2 linked regions of the Homo sapiens genome follow. The protein of the gene in region 1 purifies or fractionates together with the protein of each later gene. This does not show direct contact. Each region holds a gene or a part of one and is shown on either strand. Other genes may lie near its edges.

Region 1 (3,657 bases):
CCCCGCCATCCCCCGACTTCCCCTTCCCAAGGTATATGTGACACCCACCTGGCTGATGTCAGTGAGGCTGCCATGGCCTAGGCACCCATTGCTGCCGCTGCCGAATGTCATGATGATGCCTCTGTCTGGGGAGAAGGGCAGTGAGGAAGGAGAAGGGAAAGAAGTTAAACAGTCTTTCCAGATAGCCCGGTCCTCCAGTGGGTTGCAGCAGCAAAATAAAGTTGGGGACCAGGGCTGGAAGGATGGGATAGGAAGAGAGAAAAGGATATGAGTCCCTTCAAACATATGTGACTTTGGACAAGTGACACCCTCTCTGAGCCTTAGCGTCCCCACTTGTCAAATGAGGATAATATAATAACTGCCTTGCCAGGCCTGTCCGTAGGGTAAAGGAGGTTGTATAAGGAAATCTCCTCAATAGTTACTAGACAGAAGCAATAACTCGATAACTAGTAGACAGAAGCATTCATTAAGTGCGTGTTTTGCAAGAGAAGAGAGAAGGTGCTCTGTGGGGCCTCAGAGCAGGTCCCACAAGGTAGGCCCGACAACTCACCAGTCAGGCAGGCAGTGAAGAAGTCCCCACAGGCCACGTGCTTGATGGTCACACCCGACTGGCCCTCCAGGAAACGCGAGATGAACTGGGGCTGTGGCTGCTCCACTGCCCCAGGAAGGAGACTGCCTCCGCCTGCACCTAGGGGTGGGGCCTGCAGGGGCAGGGGGATGGGCAGCGCCTGAGCACCCCAACCCTGCTGTGGACCTCCACCTCCACCCATCCAGGCCACCCCCTGGCCTGCTCACCTCCCACAGGATGAGACGCCCAGAGCGCGTGACGCCGGCTTTCTGCGTGCGCCCAGCTGCCACCTGGACCACCTCTGTGTTGAGCATTGGCAGCCGCAGGGGGGTGCCCAGCCCACCACCCCAGGCATACACTGACGACAGTGGTGGTGGGATGGCTGGCCTCACAGGTCCCCGGGGGATACCTGCAGGTACAGTGCATGGGGACTATTAAACTGATGGGAATGGTGTGGCATCCATGGGGACTGGCGGCCTCTTCCCACTTACCTCTGCAGCGGACACTGGTGGTCCTGCTCCCTGTGTTGCTGGGGGCCACGGACTTCTCTGCCCTGCAGGACAGATGGGGGCCTAAGGACAAAGACCCTCCTGACATTCCTACATGCAGGAAGGGAGGACTTGCCCCAGGTTTCCCTCTGCCTCAGACCTCCTGTGCTCCCACTGGGTGCCCACACCCTGCCGCCCAGGACCGCTCGCTGTCCCTGCACAGGCCTCCGCATGCGGACACTGCCCACGTCGGTGTGGAGGTTGAGGAGGGCACGGATGCAGAGGGGCTGTGCCATGATGTGGCTGAGTGGTGGCCGCTGGGCAGGCTCCAGGCTGAGTAGACTCAGGACCAGCTGGCGAAGCTCAGGGCTGTACCGGTCAGAGATAGGTGCAAAGGTGCCACTCATGATCTTCAGCACCAGTGCTGGCAAGTTCTGTGAAGGCACCAGGTTGAGAATTTGGGGAAGTGAGGGCAGCACCCCCCAGCTCCAGCCCCTGGTCTCCTGGGATAATAACAGCTTTGCCTGGAGGCATCATGCTACCTGACTTCAAACTATACTACAAGGCTACAGTAACCAAAACAGCATGGTACTGGTACCAAAACAGAGATATAGACCAATGGAACAGAACAGAGCCCTCAGAAATAATGCCACACATCTACAACTATCTGATCTTTGACAAACCTGAGAAAAACAAGAAATGGGGAAAGGATTCCCTATTTAATAAATGGTGCTGGGAAAACTGGCTAGCCATATGTAGAAAGCTGAAACTGGATCCCTTCCTTACACCTTATACAAAAATTAATTCAAGATGGACTAAAGACTTACATGTTAGACCTAAAACCATCAAACCCCTAGAAGAATACCTAGGCAATACCATTCAGGACATAGGCATGGGCAAGGACTTCATGTCTAAAACACCAAAAGCAATGGCAACAAAAGCCAAAATTGACAAATGGGATCTAATTAAACTAAAGAGCTTCTGCACAGCAAAAGAAACTACCATCAGAGTGAACAGGCAACCTACAGAATGGGAGAAGATTTTTGCAATCTACTCATCTGACAAAGGGCTAATATCCAGAATCTACAAAGAACTCAAACAAATTTACAAGAAAAAAACAACCCCATCAACAAGTGGGCGAAGGATATGAACAGACACTTCTCAAAAGAAGACATTTATGCAGCCAAAAGACACATGAAAAAATGCTCATCATCACTGGCCATCAAGAAATGCAAATCAAAACCACAATGAGATACCATCTCACACCAGTTAGAATGGTGATCTTTAAAAAGTCAGGAAACAACAAGTGCTGGAGAGGATGTGGAGAAATAGGAACACTTTTACACTGTTGGTGGGACTGTAAACTAGTTCAACCATTGTGGAAGTCAGTGTGGCGATTCCTCAGGGATCTAGAACTAGAAATACCATTTGACCCAGCCATCCCATTACTGGGTGTATACCCAAAGGATTATAAATCATGCTGCTATAAAGACACATGCACACGTATGTTTATTGTGGCACTATTCACAATAGCAAAGACTTGGAACCAACCTAAATGTCCAACAATGATAGATGGATTAAGAAAACGTGGCACATACACACCATGGAAAACTATGCAGCCGTAAAAAATGATGAGTTCATGTCCTTTGTAGGACATGGATGGAGCTGGAAACCATCATTCTCAGCAAACTATCGCAAGGACAAAAAACCAAACACCGCATGTTCTCACTCATAGGTGGGAATTGAACAATGAGAACACATGGACACAGGAAGGGGAACATCACACACCGGGGCCTGTTGTGGGGTGGGGGGAGGGGGAAGGGATAGCATTAGGAGATATACCTAATGTTAAATGATGAGTTAATGGGTGCAGCACACCAACATCGCACATGTATACATACGTATCAAACCTGCACGTTGTGTACATGTGCCCTAAAACTTAAAGTATAATAAAAAAAATAAATAAATAAACAATAACAGCTTTGCCCTCAGGAGACTTCAGTCTGATGAGGAGACTCCCAGACTGACAGGGGAGTCCAACCTGGCTTTCAGTGATCCCTAGTCTGATAGGGGAGCTGCAGCTATATCCTCAGAAACCCCAGCATGCTGGGAAAACTCAAGTCTTGCTCTTGGGAGGGTCTTCTGGGAAAGCCACAGCCCTGCCCTCAGGAGCCCTCCGTCTAATGGGAGGCAAGACCTACTCTCAGAAATCCATAGTCTGAGGGACACCCATAGCCCTCCCCTGGGGTAATCTGATAAGGGAGAGACATGACTCAGCTAGAGGAGAAACCTGAGGTGGCTTGAGCCAAGGGCTGCTGGGCGAGGCAGTAGATTTCTCAGTTGTCCCCTGGAGGGTGCATACACTCACCGCAGCCTCGAAAGCCCTCTTGAGGCTGGCCAGCTCGTAGAGGACACAGCCCAGGGCCCAGATGTCACTCTTCTGGTTGTAGGGCTTGCCCTCACACAGCTCAGGGGAGATATAGCATGGGGTACCCACCACCTGCAGGATAGAAGCTGGGATCACAGCCCTGCAGGGAGGGAAGACCAGGGGCTCTGTGCATAAGCCCATTTGGGGACAGCTTCTTCTCAAAGCAAGCCAAG
Region 2 (3,657 bases), on another chromosome or scaffold:
ATCTATTTGGGGTCATTTTACCTTCAGAGCAGATGTGTTCTTGACACTGCAATTTATAACTTACATGCACATATTAGGAATTTATTTGTTTAGGCCTTCATCTTGTCATTCTTTAGGCTAGTTCTTAAAGGTGGTACTAGCTGGTCTACCCCCCTCCAAATCTGACTAGGGCTTTAACCACTTATACCTATGTTTATTCTTTGGAACACTTGCTGTGAATCAGAATATTGTTAGCTAGAAAATAAGATGTTAAGGGCACGGAAAAAAACCCCACAAAATATATTGGCTAAATCCACTCAAAACTGGAGAAAATACTGTGTGATCTCTTAGGCTCACTAGCCAAGGATGTTCCTTGGGACTCTCCTCTGCACTGCGGTTATTTACATATATACATTAAACATAAAAATATTTCTGAAATAGTGTTATAACTAGTCAGCTAAGTAAAGGAACTGCAAAACTATATTCTTATATTTACTGTGAAAGATAATCAGAAAGAATCTGCTTTATTTAGAACTTGACTAGTCAGTAGTTAAGTATACAGAATGTTCTAGACCTAATGAACTGAATACAGATAAATACAATTTTGTTGTTCTTCATGGAAGAGTGACATTTCAGTAGATCCCCACTCTGCCAGGGGAAGGAATTGTCAAGGTGACTTATTCTTTTGAGCAAGTTCTGATAGTAATTGGAAACTGGTGAATTAGAATGGTAATTAAAGCCCAGTGAAAAATGACCTCCTACTGGAAAAACTGGAGGAATACAGAAGGCTAAAAATAGTGAACACTTAATACCAACAGATTTTCTGAAGGAAGACTTCTTAGTTTCTCTAAATGGGAAATCTTACATTATCCTCTAAAGGAAAAATAAGCAAGTAGTTGAGGAAACTATGTTTTTTTTTTTCCCCCTTTTTCTTGAGACAGTCTCACTCTGTTGCCCAAGCTGAGGGCAGTGGCGTGATCACGGTTCACTGCAGCCTCGACTTCCCAGGCTCAAGCAGTTTTCTTGCCTCAGCCTTACTAGTAGCTGGGACTACAGGTGCATACTACCAGGCTTGGCTAATTTTTGTTTTTTTTTTTTGTAGAGATGAGGCCACTGTGTTGCCCAGGCTGTTTTCGAACTCGTGGACTCAGTGATCCACCTACTTTGGTCTCCCAAAGTGTTGGGATTACAAGTGTGAACCACCACACCCAGCCCAAGTAATGGATTTTTAAGGGCCTCAGTTGCATAGGAGTTTTTTATTCAGGCTGCAAAATTCCTGTGTTTTATTATATATTCCTTTTTATCTGTATTTTCTATTCACAATTCTCTTGTTTCCATAGACCGCCTTTTTCACATATATCCATATATTTATACATTTTGTTGTAAACTCTAGTCTATAGGTATTTTTAATTCACATTGTATATTACATTCTGGAATGTACAAGGAACTAACACAAATCAATAAGAAAACAAATTAGCTTTAGACATTGAAGAATCTCCCCCAACCCATCGTCTATTATTTTTGTCTATGGTGACTTTCGTTTAACAGAAATCCTTGGTTTTTATGTAATCAAATTCATTGTGTTTTTTTTTTTTAAATTAAGAGGTTGGTCTTTTTGAGTCTTAAGAAGTTCCTTTTCATTCGAAGTCATAAAGTTCTTCCCAATAAATTATACAATAAGTTTGTCAGGTTTCTGAAAAACCAAAGCAGATGTTTTTAAACAGCTTTTGATCTCTTGCCTATACGGTGGCTCAACAAACAAGATGCCAGAATTTGCATGTGTGGGGCTGGGTTGTTTTGTGGTAAATAGTGAACTGTCTTAAAGTCCAAAAACAAAGCTTATTATTTCTGGATTGAAAAGGGAATACAGTAAGGGCCCCATGGAAAAGTACTAAGACTTTTTATGAAAATGAGGGGTGGAGGCACTCTGAGTGGTTAGATTTGCTCAACTTGTGTGCACTCGCTCAGTGGAGGAGATAGGAAGAAGGACATGTAAATAATAGGATATTGATTGATATTGATTAATCATTTTGCCGATGCCAAAGGACATACTTCACTGTCTGTGGAAAAGATTGCCTTTTTCTCCCTAGGAAGTTTGAATACCTTTTAAATATGAAATTTCATGTGCATGACCTATTTCCCCACTGCCACACCTCATGCTCACACTAGGCTTATGATTCAGTCACCCACTTAAGTTCACGTGATGTCATTTCAGGGAGAATTGCAGCTACATCCTTTTGAGAAGAAAGCGATTCAGCTGGGCATGTAGGTTAGAGTCTTTAGTTCTTAGTCTTCTCATTCCTCCTGTGAAATTATCTACATTTAACAGCTTTCACTGAGTATTTTCTTCTTTCACTCGACTGTTAGAAGACATTTCCCAACCTGCAAATATGCCATTCCTGCCCCAACATGACCAACTGAGAGCTTCAGGCTTTACATGATTTTTCACAGCCCACTGAGCTTTGTAATATATAGAACACAATCTTTAGAGCTTCAGTCCTTGCTGTGCTATAATACCAACATAATAAGAGTAGCTAATATTTATCAGATGTTTACTATACATCAAACACCAATGTCTCATTTCATGACTTGTGTGACTTAAGAGGTCCAGTTCTTAACACATGGTCTCATTTTAGTATCACAGTTCTGATGATGAAGGCAGGGCTGATGTTTCCTCATCTTGCTGAAGCATGGAGAGGACTTGTCTAAAATCCCATAGCTACTAAGGGGAGCTGGGGCTAAAACCCAGATTTCTTGGGTTTTCACACCCTGCTACTATTAGCTTAAGCCTATCAAATTCTGAGTGCTTATTGGCTGATAGGATAGTCACATCATGGAGTGCCTAAATTAACACTACATGTGAATTTACCGTGTCGACTATAGCTTGAAATGGCGCCCACTGCCTGATGCCTACCAGTCTTTCTATTATACATGCTTCATTAAGCCCTACCTTTTCTCCACATTTCCCAAGAAGTGATTTTCTTTGGTTCTTGAAGTACTTTTGTACAGATCATTGGAGCTTAACTTCGTTCCTTTATCAGGAAGTGTTTTATCTCACCTGCAAGTTCAGTAAACACAATTAGCAAGTGAGGTGGCTTTGGAAAGGAATAGTACACCCTGAAAGAAACATAGTGCCCAGAAACTAGATATTGGATATTGCAAATTTTTCTTTTAGGTTACTAGAGCCACCTTCCTGAAGCCCACTTGGAGAAAGTCACTCAAAATAGTTCTGTGACCACCATTTAGCCCCAGTTCTCATATTGTATACTTGAGACTCTGGACAGTAAGACGAGGCAGGGTTGTAAGTTTGCACCCAATACCAGCTTACAAATATTCTTACATTACTGGTTTGGGTTTTAAATTATCTTTGCCTCTTCTTTCTCATCTTCCCTCACTTTTTTGTCATTTCAATTAAAGAAATATTTGCCAAGTACTGACCTTAGTGTTGCTAGGCATGAGTTCCAAGGAGCTCAGATAGCTTAGAACCAGCCCCATTTGACTTGAGCTTTTCTCGCCTCTTAGCACAGAAGGAATGGGTTGGCGTCATTATGGTTTGTTTTGAGTAACATGTATTCAGTCTGATATGCTATAGGGAGTTGTTGAAGGTGTTTGAGCAGGGGAAGCAACTGGTTTAAAATTGTTGTATAGGAAGATAAATCTGGTAGTGGTGCACAGGAT

Evidence for each region.
Region 2: the proteins of NEK8 (region 1) and MTR purify together in Homo sapiens (affinity purification with mass spectrometry; one large-scale study listed by BioGRID and IntAct). This does not show direct contact.

What each region holds. Positions count from the first base shown.
Region 1 is NC_000017.11:28,735,139-28,738,795, reverse strand, and holds part of NEK8 (serine/threonine-protein kinase Nek8), read right to left. Parts: intron 3,557-3,657; coding exon 3,425-3,556; intron 1,491-3,424; coding exon 1,282-1,490; intron 1,122-1,281; coding exon 1,060-1,121; intron 978-1,059; coding exon 796-977; intron 702-795; coding exon 551-701; intron 126-550; coding exon 49-125; intron 1-48. UniProt on the Homo sapiens protein: Required for renal tubular integrity. May regulate local cytoskeletal structure in kidney tubule epithelial cells. May regulate ciliary biogenesis through targeting of proteins to the cilia.
Region 2 is NC_000001.11:236,798,230-236,801,886, forward strand, and holds part of MTR (methionine synthase), read left to right. Parts: intron 1-3,657. UniProt on the Homo sapiens protein: Catalyzes the transfer of a methyl group from methylcob(III)alamin (MeCbl) to homocysteine, yielding enzyme-bound cob(I)alamin and methionine in the cytosol. MeCbl is an active form of cobalamin (vitamin B12) used as a cofactor for methionine biosynthesis.